Linked DNA regions of Homo sapiens: regions 1 and 3 are each linked to region 2. The links come from fine-mapping of genetic effects on gene expression. A gene starts in region 2. Each other region holds a variant in brackets. All regions are shown on one strand. Distances are from middle to middle.

Region 1 (2,758 bases), 28 kb before region 2:
TTGCCTGACACGTGCACCCTCGCACGTGGCACAGTAAGTGGGACACATTAGGCACTCGGAAAATATTTGCTGTAAACATGAAAGAAGGGCGACAGGCTAATAAAGTGTGGAAGGGTTTTGGGGTCAGCACAGCCCCGGGACGTCCCATCCCCGTGGGCCGCGGGCCGCCCGGAATACGACGACTCCACTTGCCGGCGCTGCTCCCGGGATACCAGCGACAACAGCGGCTCAGTCCCGGCAAACGGCGCGTGGCCCCTCCGGCGAAAAGCAGCTATAGGCTGTTGCGGCTGCCAATCAGACCAACAGAGCCGCGACTCGGAGACCTCTGGGAGACGTGGGCCCCCGCTAATCCGCCCTCCAATTGGCTCGCGTGCTCCCGGGGCGCTCTGGGAGATGTGTTTCTGGGAGTGTTCCGCGCATGTGCATGCGTGAGGGCGGGGCGTCGGGGTCGGGCTGGAGTGTCTGTCGCGCCTTATGTGGGCCCCTCGGCAGAAGACGCACTTTCGGCAGAAGCCGCACTTTTGGCAGAAGCCGCCCTGGGTCCTTTCCCTCCCGCAGGCAGGCCGGGACCCCGGCGGGAATTGCGTGCAGGTCGGGTCTCGCTTGACCCCAGCGCCTCCCCGCGTCCGGGCACACTGCGGACAGTTCCTTTTTATTCTCTACCGCTACTTCCTCTTTATCTTCTGCCGCTCTTTCCACACGTCTCCTCCCCCAGGCCGCTTCCCTTTGGGGCGCCGGGCCAGGGAGGGGCTGCCGGACCGGAGACCCCGGACTCGCGCCGGTCTCCGCTCGGGCGTGGGGTCCGTGGGGCGTCGGCGGGAGGGGTCCTGGAGGAGACGGCTGTGCCGGGGCGGGACCCCCTGTCCTCTTAACAGACGCGCCCCTGACAGTCGTGCCAGTCGCCGCCCTGGGCTTTGGGGACGTCCGAGGACGCAGCTGGCGGTTCCTCCCGCGGTTCCCGGCACTGTTACTTCCCCGAATTCCCAGAACAACCCATTTGATAGGAAATGGAAACTGAGAAAAATCGAGTAATTTACTCACGTCACACGGCCACCAGATATTTGAATCTCGTATTTCCCACCACTTCGTGGCTTCCAGGCTCATAAACAAGAAGTTGCAAAACAGGGTGAGGCGTGGGAATGACAGCAGCACGGGGCGGGGAGTGGAAGGGCGGAGCACCTTAGAGGGCAGGATTCAG[C/G]AAACGGAACCTCAAAGGAAACAGTGTCAGTGCTGCTGCTTAGTTGGTAAGAAAACAAAGGGCCGGGCGCGGTGGCTCACGCCTGTAATCCCACCACTTTGGGAGGCCGAGGCGGTCGGATCGCGAGGTCAGGAGTTCGAGACCAGCCTGACCAATATGGTGAAACCCTGTCTCTACTAAAAAATACAAAAATTAGCCGGGCGTGGTGGCGCGCGCCTGTAGTCCCAGCTACTCAGGAGGCTGAGGCAGGAGAATCGCTTGAACCCCGGAGGCACATGTAGTGAGCTAAGATCGCGCCACTGCACTCCAGCATGGGCGACAGAGTGAGACTGCGTCTCAAAAAACAAACAAACAAAAAAAGGGAGTAGCTGCCTTCCAGACACAGTTTTGTTATTTTTCTGCCCCTTTCACTAGCCTGTCAGCCCTTTGGTGGCCGGGGATTGCGTGTCCAAAGCCTGGCTGCTAGTCAGGTTCCTATAAATATTGGTAGGACAGAGCGTATTAAAGTTTTTATTTTAAGATTTTTAAGCACAAGAAAGTTGAGAGAGTAACATGAATACTCACGTACTCTCCACCTAGATTTAATAATCAGAAAAAATTATGTGTGTAGGCCTTTATTTTTTACAAACCCTCTTGTTTAACGTTACCGCCTTCCAAATGAAGCTCATTGGTGAGTGGTGTGGGGATCTATTCAGAGCCCCATGACTGCAGCCCTTCAGCAGGGTTAAGGCCACCTGCCACACCCCACTTTGGGAAGCTGGCTTCCTCTCCTCTCCCTCCGTTTCCAAGCTGCTCAGGAGGTGCCCTCAGAAAGATCAGTTACAATTAGTGTTATCTGCGTAGGGGACTGGGCAGCAGATCTCATTGATCTGGGCTGGGATCGGCAGGTGGGTTGGTCCAAGTTGAGAGGGAGATCCTGCAGAAGCTCTTAGCTGCTGCAGGATTCAACACTAACTCCTTAAGGTAGCAACAAGGGCCCTTTGTAAAATCTGGCCAGAAACAGGTATCTTAGATGCATCTTCACACCCGCCAGTATCCAGTCTACCCTTATCATGTCAGCCCTGCTTTCAGAATCACCCAGAATCTGACCCTTCTGCCTCCACAGTGGTTCAGGGCCCTGCAGTCGCTTTCCTGCATTGTGACAATAGATTGCTTTCTCCTCTCTGTTTCCACCTTTCTCATCTCTTGTCTCTTATGGAAGCCAGAGTGTTCTCTTTTCTTTTCTTTCTTTTTTTGAAACAGTCTCACTCTTTCACCCAGGCCAGAGTACAGTGGTGCGATCACAGGTCACTGCAACCTCCGCCTCCCAGGTTCAGGTGATTCACCTCAGCCTCCAGAGTAGCTGGGACTACGCGCACATCACCACCACACTCAGCAAATTTTTGTATTTTCAGTAGAGACGGGCTTTCACCATGTTGGCCAGGCTTATCTCGAACTTCTGACCTCAGGTGATCCACCTTCCTTGGCTTCCCAAAGTGCTGGATTATATGTGTGAGCCACCGCGCCCGGCCCAGAATGTTTCTTTTAAAGCGTAACTCCAATTATGTCACTGCTCTGCTC
Region 2 (2,758 bases):
TTTTTAAATGTTAATGACCAATTAGTTTTCCTCCTCTCGGGAAGAGCTCCTCATTGCCTTTGCTTTTTGTCAGTTGGCAGGGGTTCATTTTGTCTTAGGAATGTATAATCTTTTGTGTAGCTAATCTTTACAATTATCTTCCAGTCTATTTCTTGTTTGTTAACAGAGTCAAGAAAAAGTTCTTAAAAAATACAATCACACAGGTTTATATTTTACTTCAAGACATCTCAGTTATCTGTTTTGCCTCATAATTCAAACCATAATGCTTTGATTAACGGAGGCTTTTTAGTAAATTTTGATCTGAAAAGGCAGATATTCCTTATTTTTCTAGAATGTCTTGGTGCCACACAGTTTTCATACTCGTTTCTTTGTAACATATTTTAAGCCATCGTCAGCCATTAGTCAGGTATAATTAACTTTAAGAAGAGGCATTCATTTATATTTTTACTTTTGTCAACTTTCTGGAGGCTGGTATTACATCGAGAAATAAGGCCATCCCTGCCCACAAGTTGTCCGAACCCTGATCAGTGCGTCACTGGGGAACGAACCGAGTGTGGATACAACGCACAAACACAAAACTCTGTTCGGCCTCCGTAGGAAGCTGAAATTGAGAAAGGAAACCGAGACAGTAGGAGAAGGGCAATTAAGATGTCTTTAAAAACAAGACGGCCGGTGCGGACAGCAGTGTAGAAGTTAGCAAGCTGGAGTGGGCAATGTCGGTGCCCCATCTCTAACCTATGGGAGTCACCAGAGCGGGGGCGGAGTCCCATGGCGGCCACACCCTGTCCGCCTCCGCAGTCTTTTTACTGGAGAACCGCAGTAAAAGGCGGAAACCGCGGAGGCGTCTTGATTTTCCGGTCGGAGAGATAGCTTGCTTCCTTTAAGCCTCGGGGTAGGGGGGTGGGGAGGGTAGGGGGGTGGGGAGGGTAGGGGGGTGGGGAGGGTAGGGGGGTGGGGGGGTGGGGAGGGTAGGGGGTGGGGGGGTGGGGAGAGTAGGGGGGTGGGGAGAGTAGGGGGGTGGGGAGAGTAGGGGGTGGGGGGGTGGGGAGAGTAGGGGGGTGGGGAGAGTAGGGGGTGGGGAGAGTAGGGGGGTGGGGAGAGTAGGGGGGTGGGGAGAGTAGGGGGGTGGGGGTTGGGGGGTGGCGCCGTGGGGGGTGGCGGGGTGGGGGGTGGGGGGTGGGGAGAGTAGGGGGGTGGGGGGTGGGGAGAGTAGGGCGGTGGGGGAGTGGCGGGGTAGGGGGGTGGCGGGGTGGGGGGTGGGGGGAGCGCGGGCGCTGGGTGGGCGGGGGGTGGGGCGGTGGGGGGGCCTGCCCCGCCCCAACCGCCGCGCCTGACGGTCGTCCATTGGTTGTTTGCATTCGAACTACATTTCCCAGCAGGCCCTGGGGTTAGACTGGCCGCAGCTGGAGAGGTGCCAGCCCGTCGTGGATGACTAGAGCCAACCACCTGCCTTCCGTCTTCCAGGCAGAACCACAGAGAGGCTACAGCCGTCCTGGCCTCCCTCCGGCCCTGAGAGCTCCTCTGGCCTGTCTCAAGTCTTAACGTCTCAAGCGCAGACTGCCGGCTCCGAACGGGGAGACCAGGCTTCTGCACCGGAAACAAGGCACCGGTTGTGACGTCACAGCCGCAGAGCGCCCGACTTCCCAGAAGGCACCGAGTCCCTGCCGTTCTCCTCAACTGGCGGCGGCGCGAACGAATAGTCGCCGGCGACCTGTGAGGGCACTCGGAAGGGCGAGGGGAGGGCTCGACCGCTCGCGCCTAGTTTTTCTATCTCTCCCGGAGCCTGAGTCTCTGAGCCGTCCCCAGCAAACGCTCAGGGGCTGCAGAGGCCCCGAGAGGTGAGGGGCTCCGTGAGGGCGGGAACCAGGCTGAGGCCGCCTCTGGGGAGCGGAGCGTGTCCGTTGCTGAGGGAGCAAGGCCGGGTAGGGAGCCTGGTGAGCGCCTCAGGCAGGGGCGCACGCTGAGCTTTACGGTAAAGGTGTTCCTTGACCAGCGGAAGAGGCCCCAGAGTGAGCCTGGCCCGGCGGTCCTTAGTGGGATGTCGCCTGCCGCTCTCAGCAGAGCTTTGACGGCGGAGAGGAGTCGGCAGGCGGTGTGTGGACACCTCCTCGGCCTTGCATCTGCTCCCCGGGAGAGTCACCAACCGCCTCCCCGCCCAAAGGGCACCGGAGGGAGCTTCGGTTCGAGGGGTACAGTATGGCCAGATTCAGTGACCAACCTGCTTTTAGGCAGATGTCCTCGGTATTGACCCCAGATTTCCTGTCTTCTAGCCCATTGCTCTTTCTCCAAGCCTGATTTAACCTATTCCTGGTGGGTTTTACACACCGTCTTTCTTTCTGTCTTTTCTTTCTTTTTCCTTTTATTTTCTTTCTCTTCCCTGATTCCCTTCCTCCTTCTTTCCTTTCTCTTTTCCTTTCTTTTTTTAGAGTCAGGGTCTTGCTTTGTCGCTCAGACTGCAGTGCAGTGGCGCGATCACAGTTCACTGCAGCCTCGACCTCCTGGGCACAAGCAATCCTCCCAGCTCCCCAGTAGCTGGGACCACAGGCTTGTGTCGCCACGCCCAGCTAATTTTTTTTTTTTTTATGGAGTCGGTGTCTTGCTGTGTTGCCCAGGCTGGTCTTGAACTCCTGGACTCAAGCGATCCACCCGCCAGGGCCTTCCAAAGTGCTGGGATTACAGGTGTGAGCCACCGGTACCTGGCCACACTTTGTATTTCTCAGGAGGCTGGACCTTGGCCTTCTCCGCTCCACCCTTACTC
Region 3 (2,758 bases), 88 kb before region 2:
TACTGGAAAACCAAAAAATTTGTGTGACTCACTTCATTCTGATATTCATGTTATTGCATGGGCCTGGAACCAAACCTGCAATATATTTGAGGTAAGCATATATATGTATATGTAAGTATGTATATGTATGTATGTACATATATATACGTGTGTGTGTGTGTAGGAGCTAGGTGTGATGGCATGCACCTGCAGTCCCAGATTTGGGGAGGTTTAGGCAGGAGGATCACTTGAGTCCAGGAGTTCGAGGCCAGCCTGGGCAACATATCAAGACTCCCATCTCTAACATATTTATAAAACAAACATACGTAGAGAGAAATCCATTACAACACTGAGCAGTTTAGTTAGATATTTTTCTCATGGTTGCTTGGTCAATTCAGTAGAGTGAGTACTTTGATTTGGTCCCAGAACATGAGGCTGATGCATCATAATGTGCTTTCTTCAACTCAATGGCCTTTGCCCATCTATTAACTCTGCTATGCAGGTGAATTGCCTGAGCTCAGGAGTTCGAGACCAGCCTGGGAAACACGTTGAAACCCTATCTCTATTAAAACACAAAAAATTAGCCAGGTGTGGTGGTGCACACCTGTGGTGCCAGCTACTTGGGAAGCATGAGGCCCGAGAATTGCTTGAACTGGGGAGGAGGTTGCAGTGAGCCGAGACCGGGCAACTGCACTCCAGCCTGGGGGATAGAGTGAGGCTCTGTCTCCAAAAAATAAAATAAAAAATTTTTTTTCCTAACTCTTCTGTGTAACAAGCTGTTGTTCCCTATGCTACTAAATATTTTAGGAATTTTTCTAATGCTACAAATATTTAATTTTGTCTTTGTGAACAGTAAAGATCTTTTACTTTTTGATTGTTTCAAATGCTTTGAAATCATTCAGTTGATTGTACAAATCATGGGCAAATGCTTAGTGTGAAAATTATGTTGGAAGTATACCTATTGGTTTTAAAAATTCAACAGTAAGGATCAGCAGCTACAACACTAGAAAGATGGCAGAGCAAAAGCAAAGAAAAATCCCTTTGGTTCCAGAAAATCTCCTGAAAAAGAGGAAGGCTTATCAAGTCCTCAAAGCCACTCAGACAAAGCAGGCACTTTTGGCAAAGAAGGAGCAGCGGAAAGGAAAAGGGCTCAGGTTTAAGGGACTGGAATCATTCCTACATAATTCCTGGTGGCAGAAATGTGACAAGGTGTGTCTCAGATGACTAGAAATGAAACCTCGTGCCTTGGAATTGCCAGATAAACATTCCTTGGCCTTTGTTGTATGCAGCAAAAGGATTGTTGGCGTGAGTCTACTGGTGCAGACAGCCATTGCAAGACTTCATCTTAAGAAAATTTTTAGTGGTGTCTTTGTAAAAGTCACCCCCCAGAACCTAAAAATGCTGCGTATAGTGGAACCTTATGTGATCTGGGGATTTCCAAATCTGAAGTCTGTCCGGGAATTCATTCTGAAACATGGACAAGCCAAGGTCAATAAGAACACCATCCCTCTGACAGACAACACAGTGATTGAGGAGCACCTGGGGAAGTTTGGTGTCATTTGCTTGGAAGACCTCATTCATGAAA[T/C]TGCCTCCCAGTGAAGCATTTCCAGGAGATCTCATGGTTCTTTTGCCCTTTCCACCTCTCAGTGGTCCATCATGCTACCAAAAATACAGTGGGCTTCCTCAAGGAGATGGGCACATCTGGCTATTGGGGTGAATGCATCAATCAGCTCATCTGCCAGCTGAACTAGACCCAGGTGCCAAACTGCAGTAAATTTTTATCAATGAAGTGGAAGCATGTGTTTTTGTTTTTTTGAGATTTTTTTTATCAAGTATCTTCAAAGACTATTTCCTGCTTTATCTTCAAAAACTGGAAAGGAAGGGTTAAAAAAAAAGACAGTAGCTTAGGTTCATGGCAAGTACCTCTCATCACAGTCCAGTTCCAAGGAAAAATTCCAGCATTTTCTACATTGGCTGCCTCCTTGTCGGCGGAAGTAGTCCTGCTTTGTTGAATCTTCTATCCTAGGGTTTAATGTTGGTGAATGAGTAACTCTAGCATTTGTACAAGGCTTCCTAAGACTCCGGGAGCAGTCGACCAAGCCCAGGGACATAATTGAATCTGGAGATTCCTGGGTCCTTGTTTTGAAAAAGACTTGAAATACACATAGGAAGAAAGGCCCAAAAATAAATGTTAACTTGTCAAAAAAAAAAATTTCAACAGTAAGCTTTCTTAGTTTCTCCTAAAAGGTGCATCATATCCAAACACTGTAAAGCTTGATTTTTAATGTCAGCGCTAAGATTGGTGCAACTCAAGATTCATTATCTGAACTGTGGCAGAAATGAAAAGTGATTCAGATAGTTTTCTTAAATCTGAAATGCAATGCAAAAGGTAGCTTGCTTAATTCCTTTCACAGGAGGGATTCAGACTAGGCGAACTGCTTTAGGCAAAGTACACGCATTATCAGATTTGGGTGAATCGTACAGGAGAAAAGCCTTACAGACGCTCGACTGAAGAAGGCATTTCAGTACAGCCCAACTACCATTGCCCAGTGGAGGATTAATACATGAAGGAAACCTAGGCATGTAGCAAATTTGGTTGATGTTTCAAACAGTGCCCTCATCTCGGTCCCCAGTGAACCCACACAAGAAAAAGTGACAGGTGTAGAAAAGATTCAGAAACAAAAGTATGCTTTTTGTTTGGGTGGATTTCTACTGGGACAAACAGTAGAAACGTGAAGTATGGGCAAAACTTTGTTTCCCACTTGAGGGGACTTCAGAG

Evidence for each region.
Region 1: its variant is fine-mapped to the expression of ZNF200 in whole blood (TOPMed, PIP above 0.99).
Region 3: its variant is fine-mapped to the expression of ZNF200 in breast (GTEx, PIP 0.95).

Annotation. Positions count from the first base shown.
Region 1 is chr16:3,262,167-3,264,924 of GRCh38, reverse strand. It overlaps LINC00921 (long intergenic non-protein coding RNA 921), which reads right to left and starts at 1,157. Exons shown (of 2, transcript NR_033904.1): 1 at 1-1,157. RefSeq lists enhancers at 177-246, 397-496, 937-1,096 and a silencer at 737-916. The variant C/G (reference allele first, on the strand shown) is at 1,199.
Region 2 is chr16:3,234,067-3,236,824 of GRCh38, reverse strand. It overlaps ZNF200 (zinc finger protein 200), which reads left to right and starts at 1,667. Exons shown (of 5, transcript NM_198088.3): 1 at 1,667-1,838. RefSeq lists enhancers at 1,349-1,558, 1,569-1,628.
Region 3 is chr16:3,322,158-3,324,915 of GRCh38, reverse strand. It overlaps a transcript of ZNF75A not described here, a transcript of OR2C1 not described here and the pseudogene RPL7L1P19. Among named protein-coding and RNA genes, the nearest start is that of ZNF75A, 18 kb to the right of the region's middle. The variant T/C (reference allele first, on the strand shown) is at 1,565.